4 linked regions of the Homo sapiens genome follow. The protein of the gene in region 3 purifies or fractionates together with the protein of the main gene of each other region. This does not show direct contact. Each region holds a gene or a part of one and is shown on either strand. Other genes may lie near its edges.

The links. Proteins that work in one complex are often made in the same cells at the same time.
Region 1: the proteins of NCAPH (region 3) and NSUN5 purify together in Homo sapiens (affinity purification with mass spectrometry; one large-scale study listed by BioGRID and IntAct). This does not show direct contact.
Region 2: the proteins of NCAPH (region 3) and ST13 purify together in Homo sapiens (affinity purification with mass spectrometry; one large-scale study listed by BioGRID and IntAct). This does not show direct contact.
Region 4: the proteins of NCAPH (region 3) and LRRFIP1 fractionate together in Homo sapiens (co-fractionation; one large-scale study listed by BioGRID). This does not show direct contact.

Annotation. Positions count from the first base shown.
Region 1 is NC_000007.14:73,305,876-73,310,937, reverse strand, and holds the start of NSUN5 (28S rRNA (cytosine-C(5))-methyltransferase), read left to right. Parts: upstream 1-2,111; 5' UTR 2,112-2,147; coding exon 2,148-2,240; intron 2,241-2,384; coding exon 2,385-2,507; intron 2,508-3,180; coding exon 3,181-3,355; intron 3,356-3,435; coding exon 3,436-3,544; intron 3,545-5,062. UniProt on the Homo sapiens protein: S-adenosyl-L-methionine-dependent methyltransferase that specifically methylates the C(5) position of cytosine 3782 (m5C3782) in 28S rRNA. m5C3782 promotes protein translation without affecting ribosome biogenesis and fidelity.
Region 2 is NC_000022.11:40,839,489-40,843,902, reverse strand, and holds part of ST13 (hsc70-interacting protein), read left to right. Parts: intron 1-3,210; coding exon 3,211-3,277; intron 3,278-4,414. UniProt on the Homo sapiens protein: One HIP oligomer binds the ATPase domains of at least two HSC70 molecules dependent on activation of the HSC70 ATPase by HSP40. Stabilizes the ADP state of HSC70 that has a high affinity for substrate protein.
Region 3 is NC_000002.12:96,338,003-96,342,963, forward strand, and holds part of NCAPH (condensin complex subunit 2), read left to right. Parts: intron 1-3,639; coding exon 3,640-3,892; intron 3,893-4,047; coding exon 4,048-4,138; intron 4,139-4,753; coding exon 4,754-4,846; intron 4,847-4,961. UniProt on the Homo sapiens protein: Regulatory subunit of the condensin complex, a complex required for conversion of interphase chromatin into mitotic-like condense chromosomes.
Region 4 is NC_000002.12:237,759,324-237,763,737, forward strand, and holds part of LRRFIP1 (leucine-rich repeat flightless-interacting protein 1), read left to right. Parts: intron 1-740; coding exon 741-882; intron 883-3,279; coding exon of another isoform or gene 3,280-4,414.

The DNA of each region.
Region 1 (5,062 bases), on a different chromosome or scaffold from region 3:
TTTTAGTAGAGATGGGGTTTCACCATGTTGGCCAGGCTGGTTGCGAACTCCTGGGCTCAAGGGATCTGCCAGCCTCGGCCTCCCAAAGTGCTGGGATTACAGGTGTGAGTCACTGCGCTTGTCCTTCCTCTGCCTCTCTCTTATAGGGATACTGGTGATGCCATGCAGGACCTGCCCAGATAATCGAGGATAACCTTCTCTCCAAATCCTTCCCCTGATCATTCCTACAGATCTCTTCCATAGAAGGTGACATTTCCAGGCTCTAGGAATTAGGACCTGCTCTCTCTGGGTGGCCGTTGTTCACTCCATCACCCCACGTTTCCCCATCCTACCAAAAGACACAGCAGCATTGTGTGAACTGCCCAAACTGAAAACCTACGAGTTATTCTCGACCTGTCCTTTTTCCTGAGCAAGTTCTGTGGATTTAACTTAGCGGTCACACTGCCAATTTCAACCTAACTCCACTGCCACCAACTCAGTCCAGGCCACCAGTTCTTGTTTAGGTGACTCCCATGACCCCCATTGGTCTCTCCCTGCCTCAACTCTGCCCCCTCCATCCTATATCCCCACACTGTAACCAGACTGATTATTTATTTTTTGGGGAAAGAATCTTGCTCTATCCCCCTGGCTGGAGTGCAGTGGCACAATCTCAGCTTACTGCAACCCCAGCCTCCCAGGTTCAAATGGTTCTCCTGCTTCAGCCTCCCAAGTAGCTGAGATTACAGGTGTCTACCACCATGCCTGGCTAATCTTTGTATTTTTAGTAGAGACGGGGTTTTGTCATGTTGGCCAGGCTGGTCTTGAACTCCTGACCTCAAGTGATCTGCCTGCATTGGCCTCCCAAAGTGCTAGGATTACAGGTGTGAGCCACCACACCTGGCCAGACTGATCTTTTAAAGAAGTATATGTTAGCACAGCACTCCATGACTTAAAAACCTTAAGAGGACTACCATTTCTTTCAAGATAAAAGAATAAAATCCTCGCTGGGCACAGTGGTTCATGCCTGTAATCACTGCTTTGGGAAGCCGAGGTGGGAAGATCACTTTAGGCCAGGAGTTCGAGACCATCCATGGGCAACATGGTGAGACCACATCTCTACAAAAGATAAAATTAGCTAGGAGTGGTGGTGCATGCCTGTAGTCCCAGCTACTTGGAGAGTGAAGTGGGAGGATCGCTTGAGCCCTGGAGTTTGAGGCTGCAGTGAGCTATGACGGTGCCACTGCACTCCAGCCTGGGTGACGGAGTGGGACCTCATCAAAAACAAAAACAAAACCGTTATTGTGGCTTTGAGGCCTGGATCATACCTACATCACTTAATTTGGCCAAACCGGCCCATTTCAGGTACCCAAATACCCCACGTGCTTTCTTGCTTGGCTCTGGGACTAATGTGGTTACTGGTGCAGGGTGAATGGCAGGTATTGTAAACCACATTGTGGACCTAGAGTTGCTAGGACCTTTTTTGCCATTACACAGAAGCCTCCCTGAGAACACAGCCATTGGATGACACATGGCAGAGGAAGATAAGACAATAAACGGAGACACAAAATTATGGCCAGCGCGGGGGCTCATGCCTGTAATCCCAGAACTTTGGGAGGCCAGGGTGGGCAGATCACCTAAGGTCAGGAGTTCAAGGCCAACCTGGCAAACATAGTGAAACCCCATCTCTACTAAAAATACAAAAATTAGCCAGGTGTGGTGGCGTGGGCCTGTAGTCCCAGCTACTCGGGAGGCTGAGGCAGGAGAATTGCTTGAACCCGGGAGGCGGAGGTTGCAGTGTGCCGCGATTGCGACACTGCGCGACAGAGTGAGACTCTGTGTCAAAAAAAAATTATATATATATATATATATATATAATGACTAATACACATGTGAAGATATTTAACCTCAGTAACTTCAGTTAAACAGCAGTAAAATCCCATTATTTGCCCATCAGATTGGCAAAAACTTAAGAACTAGAGAAGAAGTGGCGAAACGGGCTGCAGCGTCGCACTCCCTACCCCGGCAGGTGCGCGATCACACACACGCCTTGCAGGGCGACTTCGACCGGCACTTCCGGTCCCGGAAGGTCGTGCTTTTTGACCCCGGAAGTCCGGGCGGGCGCCGAGCCGGGTGCGTTTTGCCACAGAGCCGTAAAGGCGCGCGGGAACATGGGGCTGTATGCTGCAGCTGCAGGCGTGTTGGCCGGCGTGGAGAGCCGCCAGGGCTCTATCAAGGGGTTGGTGTACTCCAGCAACTTCCAGGTAGCGGACCTGGGCGCGAGTAGTAGGGGTGGGGAGTGAGGAACCCGGGGTGGGGTCGGACGGGCCCGGGTGGGGTCGGGAGGTGGGGCCCGGCGAGGAGGGCCGGGGGAGCCCCCACCCAGCTTGTCTTCCTCGGCCACACAGAACGTGAAGCAGCTGTACGCGCTGGTGTGCGAAACGCAGCGCTACTCCGCCGTGCTGGATGCTGTGATCGCCAGCGCCGGCCTCCTCCGTGCGGAGAAGAAGCTGCGGCCGCACCTGGCCAAGGTGAGGGGAGGGGAGGGACGGGGAAGTGAACCCCGACGGTCAGCGCTTTGTCATCTGGTCTCAGCTCTGCTGCCGTGCACGGCGGGACTGGAGCAAGTCGCTCATCTGAAATGAGTATGAGCCGACCTTCCCTGGGTTACGAATTAAGATGGGATGAAAATGCTTTAACTTTGAGTGTTTTGAAGGATTAAATAACCGAAGTACAAAGTGGTAGTGGCGGAGACTGTAAGGAAGTCGGGCGTGGCGGCGCGCACCTGTGGTCCCAGCTACTCGGGAGGCTGAGGGAGGAGGATCACTTGAGCCCAGGAGGTCGAAGCTGCAGTGAGCTATGATCTGGCCACTGCACTTCAGCCTGGGCGACAGAGCTAGACCCCATTCTAAAAAGAAAACCCAAACCCACGAAAGGGTAATGTTGGCAAGAAGTTGGGTGCAGAGGTGTCTACTGGTGAACATCGGTGGAGAAAGGGTCTAAGGCTGGGAAGCGAGACGCCAGGTTCCGATCCTGTTCTGTAGTTAATTTCTGGTGTGATCTTGGATAAGGTATCCCACCTGTATCTTGTCAGGTGATCTGTTTAGCCATTCCATTGCCGGGGCTCCATTAGAGTTAGTTCTAAGGCATTCATGCTTCATGCTTAGGGCATTTTTGTTTTTGTCTTTGTTCCCTCATTCCCAGGTGCTAGTGTATGAGTTGTTGTTGGGAAAGGGCTTTCGAGGGGGTGGGGGCCGATGGAAGGCTCTGTTGGGCCGGCACCAGGCGAGGCTCAAGGCTGAGTTGGCTCGGCTCAAGGTTCATCGGGGTGTGAGCCGGAATGAGGACCTGTTGGAAGTGGGATCCAGGCCTGGTCCAGGTAAGCTGGAAGGAGTTGGGGGGTGGGGGAGGCGGGGAACTTTGCTCCTGCCTACTCACTGCTCATTGCGTCCTACGTAGCCTCCCAGCTGCCTCGATTTGTGCGTGTGAACACTCTCAAGACCTGCTCCGATGATGTAGTTGATTATTTCAAGAGACAAGGTTTCTCCTATCAGGGTCGGGCTTCCAGGTGAGAGCTTAGAGCCCTGGCTGTCCTCATCTAGGGAGGTGTCTGGGGTATTGGGAAGAGAAGTGGCTGGATAGTTGTGACTTTGCTCTCTGGGCTTTCTTCCTACCTTTCCAGCAGTTTATCCATCTCCAAGGTTTGTCTTCCTGCCATCCCTTAAACATCGAACTCCTAGGAGCCTCATCCTACATTCTTCTTGATCTCTCCGTTTTTTCTCTAGCTTTAACTCCTGCCTCCCACCTGGTGATTCTCACCACCCAGTGTAGACTTCCCTCTTGCATTCTTACCTCCTCAGGTTCATATGAACGCACCACAGATGCTAACAGTCGCTGCATTTGTCATCTTTCCTCTCAGACTTTACACCTAGTACATCCCCAGTTAAATCTAACAGATGTCACCATCTTCCACCCATTTGGTCAAGCCAGAAACTGAGTCATCCTAGGTGCTTCCTTCTCCTCCCTCCAATCATTTACTCCCCTACCTTGAGCATCTTTCTCAGCTCCACTCCTTTCTCTCTTTTTTTTTTAGACTGAGTCTCACTCTGTCATCCAAGCTGGAGTGCAGTGGCATGATCTTGGCTCACTGCCTCCCGGGTTCAAGCGATGCTCCTGCCTCAGCCTCCTGAGTAGCTGGAATTAGAGGCTCCCACCACCAATGTCCAGCTAATTTTTGTATTTGCAGTAGAGATGAGGTTTCACCATGTTGGCCATGCTGGTCTGAAACTCCTGAACTCAGGTGATCTGCCCGCCTTGGTCTCCCAAAGTGCTCGGATTACAGGCGTGAGCCACCACATCTGGCCTCCACTCCTTTCTCTTCAGCCCCTCGGACACTGCCTAGGTTAAGCACTCATTTCTTATTGGGATGACCACAAGAACTTCCCAGACTGGTTTCTCTGCTTCCAGACTGTCTCACTGCATTTTCCTTGAGGTTGACTGTAGGAAGCTCTAAAGCCAGATCTGATGCTGTTACTCCTCTGCTAAGCTTTTTTTTTTTTTTTTTTTTTTTTTTTTTGAGACAAGGGTTTTGCTCTTGTTGCCCAGGCTGGAGTGCAATGGCGCAATCTCGGCTCACTGCAACCTCTGCCTCCTGGGTTCAAGCAATTCTCCTGCCTCAGCCTCCTGAGTAGCTGGGATTACAGGGATGCAGCACCACGCCCGGCTAATTTTGTATTTTTAGTAGAGACGGGGTTTCTCCATGTTGGTCAGGCTGGTCTCGAGGCTCCTGACTTCAGGTGATCTGCCCGCCTCGGCCTCCCAAAGTGCTGGGATTACAGGTGTGAGTCACCGTGCCCGGCCATGCTAAGCCCTTTCTTGGCTCCACTGTGCTGTCCCTCCTGCTTTCTCTCAGGTCCATCTGCCACGGTGCTGCGTGCACCAGTGTGCCAGCAACAGTGGCTGGTCCCTGCCCCGTGCCTCCTCCACTGGGCTCACACCTGTCTCGTTTTGTCCTTCGTTGGCTCTGAGAAGCAGCCTCTGCCCCTCTCCCTTTCTCCTACTCTTTGTAAGATCCTCTTCCTTCTGC
Region 2 (4,414 bases), on a different chromosome or scaffold from region 3:
TAAAAAAAAAAAAAAAAATGCATTTTCCTGATTCCTAATGAGGCTGAGCATATTTAAATGTTTATTGGCTGTTCACTGGCATTTGCGAACTCCTGTTTAAACTTTTTCCACTTTTTGCTGGATCTTTTTCTTACTGCTTTGTATTTCATTTCAATATTCTGGATGCTAATAATTTGTTGCTAGTGCTGCATATATTTTCTGCTAGTTTGTGACTCATCTTCACTCATCTTTCTTCATGTTGTTTCAAAAATAGTATCTTTTAATGCAGATATTTTCTGCTTTATTACTTTGAGGTTATAATTGCTGTAGTGCATTGCTTTTTCTCTTCTGAACATTTTATACACTCACCTTTCACCTTTAATCTACCGGTCCCACCAAAACTAAAATACACTGTTTCTGAATATTGTGGGTCTGTTTCAGGAGTTTATTGTTCTGCTTGTCTATTTTTTTTCTGTTCACTAATGCCACATCGTCTGATACTAAGTCTTGTTATTTTGTAGAACAAGGACCCCCAAAACTTTTTAGTCTTTTGGCTGTTCTTGGCTTTTTGTTTTTCCAAGTAAATTTTAGAAATAGGTTGATCAAGTCTCCCCGCTTCCATTGGTTTTTTTCCCCTTTGTTAGAATTGTGTTAAATCTAAATCAAGTTCGGGAAAAGATATATCTCCTCACCATTGAGATAAACTATCCATAAATAATGTTATCTGCCCAATTTTTAGGTGTTTTTAAAATATTTTAATAACTTACTAACGTGTTCCCCATAAGTCTTGTGCTTTGTTTTTTTGAGACAGTGTCTCACTCTTCCATCCAGGCTGGAGTGTAGTGGTACAATCATAGCTCACTGCGCCCTTGACGCCCTGGGCTCAAGTGATCCTCCCACCTCAGCCTCCTGACCAGCTGGGACTATAGTCATGCACCACCATGTCCAGCTAGTTTTTTATTTTTATTTTTAAAAATTCTTAGTAGAGACAAAATCTCAAACTCCTGGCCTTCCAGAGTGCTGGGATTACAGGTATGAGTCACTGCACCTGACGTAAGTCTTGTGCATTTTTGTTAAGAACAAATGTAAGTACTTTCTGTCACCATTTGTCAAAGGAAACTTTAAAGGTTAAATGTTATGTTTATTGATGGTATTACTTCTTTTATGATGTGTCTAGGTTTATAATTTTTTATTTATCCTGCTTGGGATTCAGTGAGCATCAAATTCTAGGGTTAACTTTCTTTAGCTCTAGAATATTTTCAGCTGTTATTAAATATTGCCTCCTTCTTGTTTACTTTATGCTCTAATTCTGGATCCCTGGTAATGTTAGACTTTTGTTATTAAGTTTCATTTCTTTATCACTCTCTGCTGAAAAGCAGTCTATGCTTTGTCTGTTCCATTGATGTTTGAATTGGAATGCTTGTGTTTTTCATTTTGGTACTTCAAATCTTTTTGAAGTCTACTTGGTTATTTGTAAGTCTTTTGCTCTTTACTCATTTTCAGAATTTACTTTTATTAAACACATTAAATTCCTTGTTGAACTCTTCGCTGGTCTTACTCTTATTTTTCATGGCTCTTGCTCATTAAGGTACCTTGTTTACTTTATGATGTGTTTGTGTGTTGTGTGTGATATTTTGAAAATGTGTTCTTTGGAACTTCACCTGTAGAAAAATTTTGAGGCCTAGGTAAGAAGGTGATTGCTTCCATGAAGTCTCTGAATTGGTGCTACCAACTCAAGGACCCCTTGAAAGTCTCAGCATGGTGTTTTTTTGTTTGTTCCAATTACTTTGGTAATACAGAATTCCAGATGAAAGGCTGGCTGTGGCTCTGAATTTTCAGGGGAAGTTCTTTTAATCTCACTACTCAACTGTCCGTTTCTGTAGGACAGGTTTATACCATTATGCTTGCCGGTATTAGCATTTGGAGTTGCAGATTTATTTTGGAAGGTGTCTGGTTAGACCACATACATTCTCTTCCTCTGAATATAGACTTTGTATCCTGTGTCCTGCATTACCTTCAAAATAAAATTGCAGCCAGGAGTGGCGGCTTATGCTTCTAATCCCAGAACTTTGGGAGAGTGAGGCAGGCAACTCACTTGAGTCCAAGAGTTCTAGACCAGCCTGGGCAGCATGATGAAAACCCGTCTCTATAAAAAAAAAAAAGCAAAACATTTAGTAGGTTGCGAGCATGTAGTTCCAGCTACACTTGAGGGGAGGCTGAGCCCAGGAGATGGAGGTTGCAGTGAACCGTGATTGCACCACTGCACCGGAGCTTGGGTGACAGAGGTAGACCCTGTCTTTAAATAAAACATTATTTTTATATTTAATATTTATTTTTTCTTTTTATTTTTTGTAGAGACGAAGTTTCGCCATATTGCCCAGGTTGGTCTTGAACTCCTGGGCTCAAGGGATCTACCTGCCTCAGCCTCCCAAAGTGCTGAGATTATAGGCATGAGTTGTATATTTTTTTCCTGTGGTTAAAGATCTCCAGAGCTTTCCATTTTAGGAGGATGTTTGCTATAACTCTTTGTTCTTTTTTTGCAGGGGTAGGGTGAGACATGGTCTTGCTCTGTGTCACCCAGGCTAGAGTACAGTGACACAATCAAGACTCACTACAGCCTTGACTTCCTGAGCTCAAGCGAGCCTCCTAACTCAGCCTCCTGAGTAGCTGGGACCAGATGCATGTGCCACCATGCCCAGCTTGTTTTTTTTTTTTTTTTTCTTTTTTTTGGAGAGATGGGATCGCCCTCTGTTGCCCAGATGCACATGTTTTTGTTCTTAACTAATCTTTATACTGTCAGCATCTTGTACAGTGTTTGGTCTATCTATATAGCATAGGTGCTCAATAGTTGTTTGTGGGAACAAAGGAATGAGACCTTTCTCTTCTGAGGATTTAAACCTAAAAGGAGCTAGTTATCTTTTTGTGAGGAGATTGGGTTTAATATTTATGGATAGCTAGGTAGGAGCTGGTATGCTTTGGTTGGGACGGAAGGTTAAGCAAAGGTTATGTCTCGGGCAGAGTGTAGGAGTGAAATTTGTTTAGTATAAAAGGTTAAAACTCGTATGTAATTTCTCACTAATGAGTTATCATAATTGTCTCTTTGTTCTCTGGAGACTACAGAAGAATGAATGAAAATGGGTATTGTGACTGCGCCTCATCCCTAAGAAAGTATGAATTGCTTCCTTCTCTCTCTCTCTACTAATTCTAAGATGATTTTTATTTTCTTCCTAGATAACGGAGGAGATGATGGATCAGGCAAATGATAAAAAAGTGGCTGCTATTGAAGCCCTAAATGATGGTGAGTAATCTTTTTGCTACATTTCTATGGTAGTCAGAATATTTATTGCAGTAACTTAAATAGTGGTAAAGTAGAAGAGAAGTTACATGTACCTGTCCTATACTGGAGAAGATAGTGTCCTATTATCCAGTCACCCCTTCCTCATTGATAAAAGAGGCTGAAATCACTTCTCTCTGCAAGGACAGATCCTTATTTGATTCAGTGTCTCTGATTTCCTGACCCTATCGTGGTGTTTTTCTGCTGAGAAGAGGCTTTAAAGAGGTGAAAGGCTTTAAAAAAAAAAAAAAAAAGTAGTAGTAGAACAGTGACCCTTAACTTTTTACATACTAATACCCTTGACAGATGATGTTCATAGGCATACCAATCTTCGTCCTAGTCAGAGCATGTTAGATTCTCTTGAGTAAATCCCCTCAGAGTGAGAAAGTGGTGATAGTATTCGGTTTTGTTTTTTGTTTGTTTGTTTGGTTGGTTTTTTTGAGACGGATTCTCACTCTGTTGCCCAGGCTGGAGTGCAGTGATGCGATCTCGGCTCACTACAACCTCCGCCTCCCGGGTTCAAGCAGTCCTCCTGCCTCAGCCTCCCGAGTAGCTGGGATTACAAGCGCGTACCACCATGCCCAGCTAATTTTTTGTATTTTTATTAGAGAAGGGGTTTCACCATGCTGGCCAGTCTGGTCTTGAACTCCTGACCTCGTGATCTGCCCGCCTCAGCCTCCCAAAGTGCTGGGATAACAGGCATGAACCACTGCGCCCAGCCTCTTTTTTTATATATATTTATTTTTTTAACTCTCCAAGGTAACAATAGGTTATTATTTTTTTCTTTTTTCTGTTTTTCAGTTGTATTTTATTTTATTTTTTATTTTTGAGACAGAGTCGTGCTTTGTCGTCCAGGCTGGAATGCAGTGGCGTGATCTCGGCTCTCTGCAACCTCCACCCCAAGTCGAGCAATTCTCCTGCCTCAGCCTCCCTAGTAGCTGGGATTACAGGCGTGTGCTACCATCTCCAGCTAATTTTTGTATTTTTAGTAGAGACGGGGTTTCACTATGTTGGCCAGGCTGGTCTCAAATTCCTGACCTCGAGTGATGTGCCCGCCTCTGCCTCCCAAAGTGCTGGGATTGCAGACGCGAACCACTGCGC
Region 3 (4,961 bases):
TGCAACCTCTGCCTCCCAGGCTCAAGCAATTCTCCTGCCTCAGCCTACCGAGTAGCTGGGATTACAGACATGCGCCACTACACCTTGCTAATTTTTGTATTTTTAGTAGAGACGGGATTTTGCCTTGTTGGCCAGGCTGGTCTCGAACTCCTGACCTCAAGTGATCCTCCCACCTTGGCCTCCAAAGTGCTAGGATTACAGGCATGAGCCCAGCCTTGTTTTTACTTCCTATTTTATTGAAAAAAAAAAAAAAAAAAAAAAGCAAACAAAAAGGAACATCCCCAAGTCTGCCATTGCACCTGCTCCCTGCCTGCATCTGTGCCAGTGCCTCTGTCTTTTCTCCTGTTACTGAGGATGGGCTTTCTGTGCTCTCTACAAAGGCAACCTCTTTGCCTGCTTGAGTACATTGTTCAGCAAATTTTACCTTTTATTTTGGATGGTCACTGTGATAGGCTGAATAACACTTGCCCTAAAGGTGTCCAGAACCTGTGAATATGTTATCTTACGTGGTGAAAGAGACTTTGCTCATGTGATTAAGTTAAGGCTGTTGAGAAGACTATCATGGATCATCTGGGTGGGCCCAGTTTAATCACAGTGGTCCTTGTAAGAGGAAGGTCGTCGGGGTAGAGTGAGAGCAGATGTGATGACAGAACAAGAGGTTAGAGTGATGGGGGGACAGTGAGCCAAGGAATGTAGGCAGCTCTGAAGCTGCAAAAGGCGAGGAACAGATCCTCCTCTCAAAGCCTCCAGAATGAATGTAACCCTCCACAGCTGCAAGAGAACACATAAACGTGTGGGGGTTTTTTTGTTTTTGTTTTTGTTTTTTGAGACGGAGTCTCACTTTGTCACCCAGGCTGTAGTGCAGTGGCGCGATCTCGACTCACAGCAAGCTCCACCTCTTGGGTTCATGCCATTCTTCTGTCTCAGCCTCCCAAGTAGCTGGGACTACAGGCACCCGCCACTGCGCCCGGCTCATTTTTTTGTATTTTTAGTAGAGGTGGGGTTTCACCGTGTTGGCCAGGATGGTCTGGATCTCCTGACCTCATGATCTGCTCGCCTCGGCCTCCCAAAGTGCTGGGATTACAGGTGTGAACCACCGCGCCCAGCCACATGTGTGTTTAAACCGCTAGGTTTGTGGTCATTTGTGACAGCAGCCATAGAAAACTAATACAGTCTCTTTGCTTCATTCTTTCTACCATGCTGAGGTTTTTGTTTGTTTGTTTTGTTTTTTTGTCTTAAAAATTCCTCACTTCCCTTTCAACTCTCACCCTCTCATTTCTCTCCACCCTTTTACAGTAGAAGTCTTTGGGCAGGGCGTGGTGGCTCACGCCTGTAATTCCAGCACTCTGGGAATCCAAGACAGGCAGATCACGAGGTCAGGAGTTCGAGACCAGCCTGGCTAACACTGTGAAACCCCGTCTCTACTAAAAATACAAAAAAGTAGCTGGGCGTGGTGGCGGGCGCCTGTAGTCCCAGCTACTCAGGAGGCTGAGGCAGGAGAATTGCTTGAACCTGGGAGGCGGAGTTGCAATGAGCTGAGATCCCGTCACTGCACTCCAGCCTGGGGGACAAAGCAAGACTCTGTCTCAAAAAAAAAAAAAAAAAAAGAGAAGTCCTTGAACACCTTGTCATCGTTTGCTGTCTCCAGTTTCTCTTCTCCCATCTTCACTTGAACCACTCCAGTTCAGCTTTCTCCCTTACTACTCTAGGAAAACTGTTTTTGTCAAGATCACTAGTAACCCTAGGTTCTAAATCCAATGATCAGTTCTCAGTCCTCATCTACATAGTTTATCACATCCTCCTCCCCTAAAAATACTTTCTTCACCTGGCTTTTAGAATGCCACATTCTCCTGATTTTCTCCCACCTCACTAGTTGCACATTTCCCAGCTCTTTTGCTGGTTTCTCCTTCTTTATTTTTACTTATTTATTTATTTTTTGTGACAGAGTCTCACTCTGTTGCCCCGGCTAGAGTGTAGTGGCGCCATCTCGGCTCACTACAGCCTCCGTCTCCCGGGTTCAAGCGATTTTCCTGCCTCAGCCTCCCAAGTAGCTGAGATTACAGGCGCCCACCACCACGTTCAGCTAATTTTTGTATTTTTAGTAGAGACAGGGTTTCACCATGTTGACCGGGCTGGTCTCGAACTCCTGACCTCATGTGATCTGCCTGCCTCAGCCTCCCAAAGTGCTTTCCTGCTCTTTAAACCTTTAAAGTGTTCCTCTACTCAGTTATTTGGTGATCTCATCCAGTATTATGGCTCTGAATACCCTCTACATGCTGATGACTTCCCAGTGTGTGTATCTCATCTGGAACTTTCCCTAAATTCTGGGATTAGATACCCACCTATCTAACCCAGTAGGATGACTAATACTAATAAGCATCTTTTTTTTTTTTTTTTTTTTTTTTGAGACGGAGTTTCACTCTTGTTGCCTGGGTTGGAGTGCAATGGCACAGTCTTGGCTCAGTGCAACCTCTGTCTCCCGGGTTCAAGCGATTATCTTGCCTCAGCCTCCTGAGTAGCTGGGATTACAGGCGCCCGCCCCCACGTCCAGCTAACTTTTGTATTTTTAGTGGAGACGGGGTTTCACCATATTGGCCAGCTGGTCTCTAACTCCTGACCTCAGGTGATCCACCCACCTCGGCCTCCCAAAGTGTTGGGATTACAGGCATGAGCCACCGTGCCCGGTAGCCCAGGCTGTTTCTTAACTCCTGGCCTCAAGGGATCCTCCCACCTCAGCCACCCAAAGGGTAGGATTACAGGGATGAGCTACCATGTCCGGCCTTTTTTTTTTTTTTTTTTGGTTGTTATCTTTTAAGTTAAGAGACTAAGCTAGTTTTCTTGAAAACTGTCCTGCATTCTAGAGTGTTTCCTTGTGATATCATTTAACTTGTTCCTTGACCCCTTGTATTTCTTATAAACCAGAAGTTAAAGATCTAAAGTTCTTTGGTTAAATTTAGGTTAAACATGTTTGGTGGAAATATTTCCTGGGTGATGCTATGAATTTCACATTGTGTCACATGAAGAGATGAGTAACTTTCAGATTGATTTTTAGTGAGGCTACATTTGACTGGTTAATGTGGTGACTGGTAGAGTTTTTATTGTAAAAGACATTTTTCCTTTTGTAGTTAGCAAATAATCTGGATGATTCTTTGGAACATTCTATTTGTTTTACATGTTTATGTTGTTTTTCCTCTGTCTGTTTGCCAAGATATGGAGGAGCTGGAATTAGAGCCCAGCCTGTCTAACTCTATAGCCCATACCTCACCCTTGTCTCAGCATCTGTCTCTTCCTTGTCTTACCTGGCATGATGGGTTATATATGTCTGTTGTCCAGTTTGTGAGCTTATCAGAGGCAGCAATATTATATCATCCATTTTTATATCCATGCAGTACTTAAATTCACATAGCTGCAGAGTGGATATTTGTCCCAGATTAACAAAGAAGCATCAGAAACCTATGGCCTCCCCCCTGCACCTCCAAGAAACCCAAACTCTAGAGGTTCTAGCCATTAAGTATTAGAGTTGGAGAAGATCTCAGTGGACAGTGTGTGGTGAACCTCCACCCCTGTGACAGGCTCAAGACTTCTTTGGATATAGGAAATGTTCTCTTGAAGGTTTCTTGAGCAAGAATTTTGTTCCAGCACTGCCAGCCACAATGAATAACTCTTCTTCAGAGACGCGAGGACACCCCCACAGTGCCTCCTCTCCTTCAGAGCGTGTGTTCCCGATGCCCCTGCCCAGGAAGGCGCCTCTCAATATTCCTGGCACCCCAGTCCTCGAAGACTTTCCTCAGAATGACGATGAGAAGGAGCGGCTGCAGCGGAGGCGCTCGAGGGTCTTTGATCTGCAGTTCAGCACTGACTCACCTCGCTTATTGGCCTCCCCCTCCAGCAGGTGAGGTGCTCCTGGGCTGTTTCTCCTTGAGGCAGCCGCCTTGATATGGGCTGCGTAGGTCCAGGCATCTCCACAAAACTTCATGGGTCTAGGTTTTGAAAATTTAAACTATCATGGATTCTTGCCAGAGTTGTTTGTTTTTGTTTTCCATTTAGGAGTATTGACATTTCAGCTACTATCCCCAAGTTTACAAACACGCAGATTACGGAACATTACTCCACCTGTATCAAACTGTCCACTGAAAATGTGAGTATTTGCTGGTTTATTATTGAAGACGTAATCCCTTGATCACAGGGGAAATCCAGCTATCTTGTTTCTGTAGATAATGCACAATCAATGATGATAATTCTCTGGTGAGTCATCTTAGTGCTGGTGGTTTTACTGTTTACTCTGGACCCGTGGTGCACCTCCTGAGAGGCTGCCAGCTATCTGCTGTGTATCTAGAAAGGCAGCATGGCGCATGAGTTAATAGTAGAGTTCTGGAGCTAGCCTGAGTTGGAGGCTACATGCTTCTAAGCTGTGTGTGAGCCACCCAACCATTTTGCTTCCGTGTCCTCTGGAGAATGGGGGTAGTGCCTGCCTCATGAAGTTGTTTGGAGGGTGAGTCCCTTTGTGTGCAGTGCTTAGAGCAGGGCCTGCACACACTGAGCATTCAGGAATTTTGTGCCGTCATTCCCTAGCCTTGAACATGAGGACATGCCTGTGAGGATTTGGCTCTTGACAAGTGTTTTTGGGAAGAGAGATCAGTGACAATATGTGGGTATTCCTATGTAAAGACTTAGCTTCCTCTGTTAAAAGCAGCATTATTTACATGAGCCTAGGCTATAAATAACAATCCTTTCTGCAATTTTCTGTTTTCAGAAAATCACTACCAAGAATGCTTTTGGTTTGCACTTGATTGATTTTATGTCAGAGATTCTTAAACAGAAAGACACCGAACCAACCAACTTTAAAGTAAGAAGGATGTCCACTTTCTCTTGCATCTGAATTAAATGATGATGATTTCTACTACTTGGCATAACACAGTTGAATGCTGCAAATACATGAGAGACTTCTCATTTAGATGTTA
Region 4 (4,414 bases), about 140 Mb from region 3:
AAGCGCCAGTGGCAGCACTCTGGGTGGGGGGGTTCCTGAACCGTCACCATCTGCTGCTTGGCCTCCAGGGTCAAAGCCAGAGCAGTGAGCCAGCCAGCTACAGGCTTAGAGCTAAGATTCGTAATTCTGCTCCTTGAAGAGGCGATCAGTTCAGGGGAGTTCCTCACACACAAGGGAGAGAGAGCCACAGGCGGCAGGAGGGCATGGGTGAGTGATGTCTGCAGTTGGGAAGTGCTGCTGTTTTCAGTGAATTCTGTTTCTTTTGAATATACTGAACATTCTAGCCACCTCTGAATTCCTTCTTTAACATAAGTTTCGTGTGTCTCTTTCAGAACATGTATATATTTCTTTCTTTATCTGGTTTCTCTTTTTAAAGAATGCAATCAGGGTTTTGAAATGAAAGGTCACTTGGCAGTGACTTGCTTACTGCTCCACTTGGGGGCAGCCCACAGGCCACTACCTGTAGTTAAAAAGGATGCCTGGTGGAAGTAGCTTGTCACCAGCAAATGAAAGCATGGATTGGAACATCTGAGAAAGAAGTAGCCTTTGGAGGACGATATCCCAGATTTGTGTGTGTTGACCGAATATTTACGAGTGCTGCACCCTAGCATTTCTCTTGTCTCTGTGGAGTTACCCTGTACTTCAGGAAAAAATGGTTTTCTTTTTTATTATTGTATTAAAACAGAGTTTAACCTAATATCACTGAGTAAATATTACGATGAGCCTATTTTTGTTCCCAGAAACATGGAATAATCCTAAATTCAGAAATAGCTACCAATGGAGAGACTTCCGACACCCTCAATAATGTTGGATACCAAGGTCCTACCAAGATGACAAAAGAAGAGTTAAATGCCCTCAAGTCGACAGGGGATGGGACCCTAGGTAAGTATTTGCTTTCCTTCGGCTCCTCACACCTTTCCACTCAGCATTGGTTCACCCTCCATGCACTGCTGGGGTTGGAGCCACCGTCGCTGATGGGTTAACAGTCACCAGCATGCCATTTGTTTCATCACTTCATGGTAATTTCCTTGCCCACCCGGTGTGGTCACCCACGTGTTGTCTGGCATGCATCTCTGTGTAGTGCACCATCAATGGCTCAAGTGAACCTTTTCTTTTGCTGCTCAAAGCTACCAAGCAAGACTGTGAAGGCAAAAGGAAAACAGTCTCAAAATTAAGTAACAATGTGGAGAGTACTATTTGGTTTTCCTCAGACACATATATATCTGTACCTATAAAGTGTGGCTTTTTAAACCGATTCTATGACAGAATTATCAAAAGATCAGAATGGTTGAGGCCGTCAAGTCAGTTGGCCATATTTGCAAGCCAACATCGACATCCTGGGCAGCATTCAGCGCTTTGAGGGTACGGGGTGCCTGTGGACAGCAGGTCCGTCTGTGTTGCCTTTTTCAAGCCACCGCTCGAGGTGGGCAGGCGGCCGTGGTAGTGGGTGTGGCGGTGCTGAGAGTCTGAGTATGCCCACCTTTGTCAGAGGGGATCCTCCTTTGTATGCCACGTGTTTGCTTCTGAAAGAATATAAAACTGGGGAATCCAGTAGATCAGAGGAATATTTTATACCATTTTCAATGATCTGATTTGTCATAATTTGTCATAAGAGTTGGCTTTGGGAGAAACCTTCAGATTCTGGCGTGCAGCCTGAAGTTGCAGCGTGCAAGTGAGGCCTCATCTGTCACTGGTCACCCTCTGCGTTCCAGTGTTTTACAAAGAGGCTGGAATAAGGTCAGGGTCCGTGACTTTTCATTTTAATGTAGAAGCTTTCATCTTATTTCTTTTTATTTATGGAAATGTAGACACCTCCAGGCCCCATCTTCTCAGGCCTCGCATTCCAGGGAGGTACCTCATTCATTATCTTTATGACTATTAAAGAAACACAGCTCTTTTCAATTGTGTAAAAAAAGTTGTGGCCTAGTGCAGTGGCTCACACTTCTAATCCCAGCGCTGCGGGTGGCCAAGGCTGGAGGATCACTTAAGACCAGGAATTCCAGGCCAGCCTGGCAACCTAGCAAGATTCCGTCTCTAGATAGGTATGTAGTATCTATATACCGTTGTTGAGAAAAGATAAATTAATCAATTTCCATCATACCTTTATATGAGCTACCCGAACAGCTAGGAATCTGATTACGCTGCTCTTACTCAAATACACATTTTATAAATCTTTGATAACCATTGTGAAATGTTGTAAGAACCAGAAATGTCAGTTTTGAAAGTGGCCTTCAAATGACTTTTGATCACATATTCCTTCAGCAAAGAATTGTAGGATCCAATATGTATGTTTATTTTAAATCTACATATGTATACTATTTCATTAATATAAAATGTACGTTATAAAATATATGCAAAGATATGCAAAGAAGTTTTAGAGTAAAACTCTAAATAGAATTCCTAATATTTCCCCCATTTTCCCTGGGATATGGGCACCCCACCATGGAGATCACTGGGCTATAAAATTATCTAGCTTTGACTTTCAGTAACATAGTACCATATCTAATCTGCTGGGGTTTTGTTTGGAGAGTCCAAAAATTCCAAAACAGTTTGATGTTCTTTAGACGATGAATAATTTATCATTTAATTTAGTGGTCATCTTGATCTTGAACATTTGCCTCCTGCTGGTCCTCTCTCCCTAGTCCCTTAGGGAATGGAGCAGAGGTATCAGGGCATGGACACAGGGTGTTTTCTCAGGAAAACAATAGTTGAGTGGCAGAAGATAGATTTCCTTTCATATGAGCTATTTCAAAAGCATCTTCCTTGAGACTGACCTTGAGGCTGCATTTCTAAAAGTGCACTGAATATTCTTTTTAAAAATTACTTGAAAGCTGCTTTTAGGGCTGTGTGACATGGAGTGCAGTTTGACAGCTGCAAAAGTACAAGTTGTCAAGTTGTTCATTGAGAAGTGAGAGTGGGGAATTGAACCTTCAGTCTGTTCCTAAACCCATCATTGTGGATTGTTTGGCTGCCTGATCCAGAGTTCTTTCTATTTGTTGAAACTTAACGTCACCTTTAAAAATCTGTCCACACAAGATGGCACCAGCAGCCACTCTGGCCTTTGATGTGGTGGCAGTGGCCCTCACTGACCCAAAATTTACTAATGCAACTGCTGCTTTGCCGCACAGAACTGGCAAAGGCTTGTTTCTCATGACTCTTTGATGACTCTGTCTTTAGGAATAGGGGTGGGTGGGATTTGGAACGTGTGTTTACATTCTAATGTAGATTATGTGGCCGCCACATCATGGGGTCCCTTCAATTTTCTCAATGGTCTTTTAGGAAGAGCCAGTGAAGTGGAGGTGAAAAATGAAATCGTGGCGAATGTGGGGAAAAGAGAAATCTTGCACAATACTGAGAAAGAACAACACACAGAGGACACAGTGAAGGACTGTGTGGACATAGAGGTATTCCCTGCTGGTGAGAATACCGAGGACCAGAAATCCTCTGAAGACACTGCCCCATTCCTAGGAACCTTAGCAGGTGCTACCTATGAGGAACAGGTTCAAAGCCAAATTCTTGAGAGCAGTTCTCTCCCTGAAAACACAGTACAGGTTGAGTCAAATGAGGTCATGGGTGCACCAGATGACAGGACCAGAACTCCCCTTGAGCCATCCAACTGTTGGAGTGACTTAGATGGTGGGAACCACACAGAGAATGTGGGAGAGGCAGCAGTGACTCAGGTTGAAGAGCAGGCAGGCACAGTGGCCTCGTGTCCTTTAGGGCATAGTGATGACACAGTTTATCATGATGACAAATGTATGGTAGAGGTCCCCCAAGAGTTAGAGACAAGCACAGGGCATAGTTTAGAGAAAGAATTCACCAACCAGGAAGCAGCTGAGCCCAAGGAGGTTCCAGCGCACAGTACAGAAGTAGGTAGGGATCACAACGAAGAAGAGGGTGAAGAAACAGGATTAAGGGACGAGAAACCAATCAAGACAGAAGTTCCTGGTTCTCCAGCAGGAACTGAGGGCAACTGTCAGGAAGCGACAGGTCCAAGTACAGTAGACACTCAAAATGAACCCTTAGATATGAAAGAGCCCGATGAAGAAAAGAGTGACCAACAGGGAGAGGCATTGGACTCATCGCAGAAGAAGACAAAGAACAAGAAAAAGAAAAACAAGAAGAAAAAATCCCCAGTACCCGTAGAAACCCTTAAAGATGTTAAAAAAGAGTTAACGTATCAGAACACAGATTTAAGTGAAATTAAGGAAGAAGAGCAGGTAAAGTCTACTGACAGAAAGTCAGCAGTGGAAGCCCAAAACGAGGTGACTGAAAATCCAAAACAGAAAATTGCAGCAGAAAGCAGTGAAAATGTTGATTGTCCGGAGAATCCTAAAATTAAGTTGGATGGAAAACTTGACCAAGAAGGTGATGATGTACAAACAGCAGCTGAGGAGGTACTAGCTGATGGAGA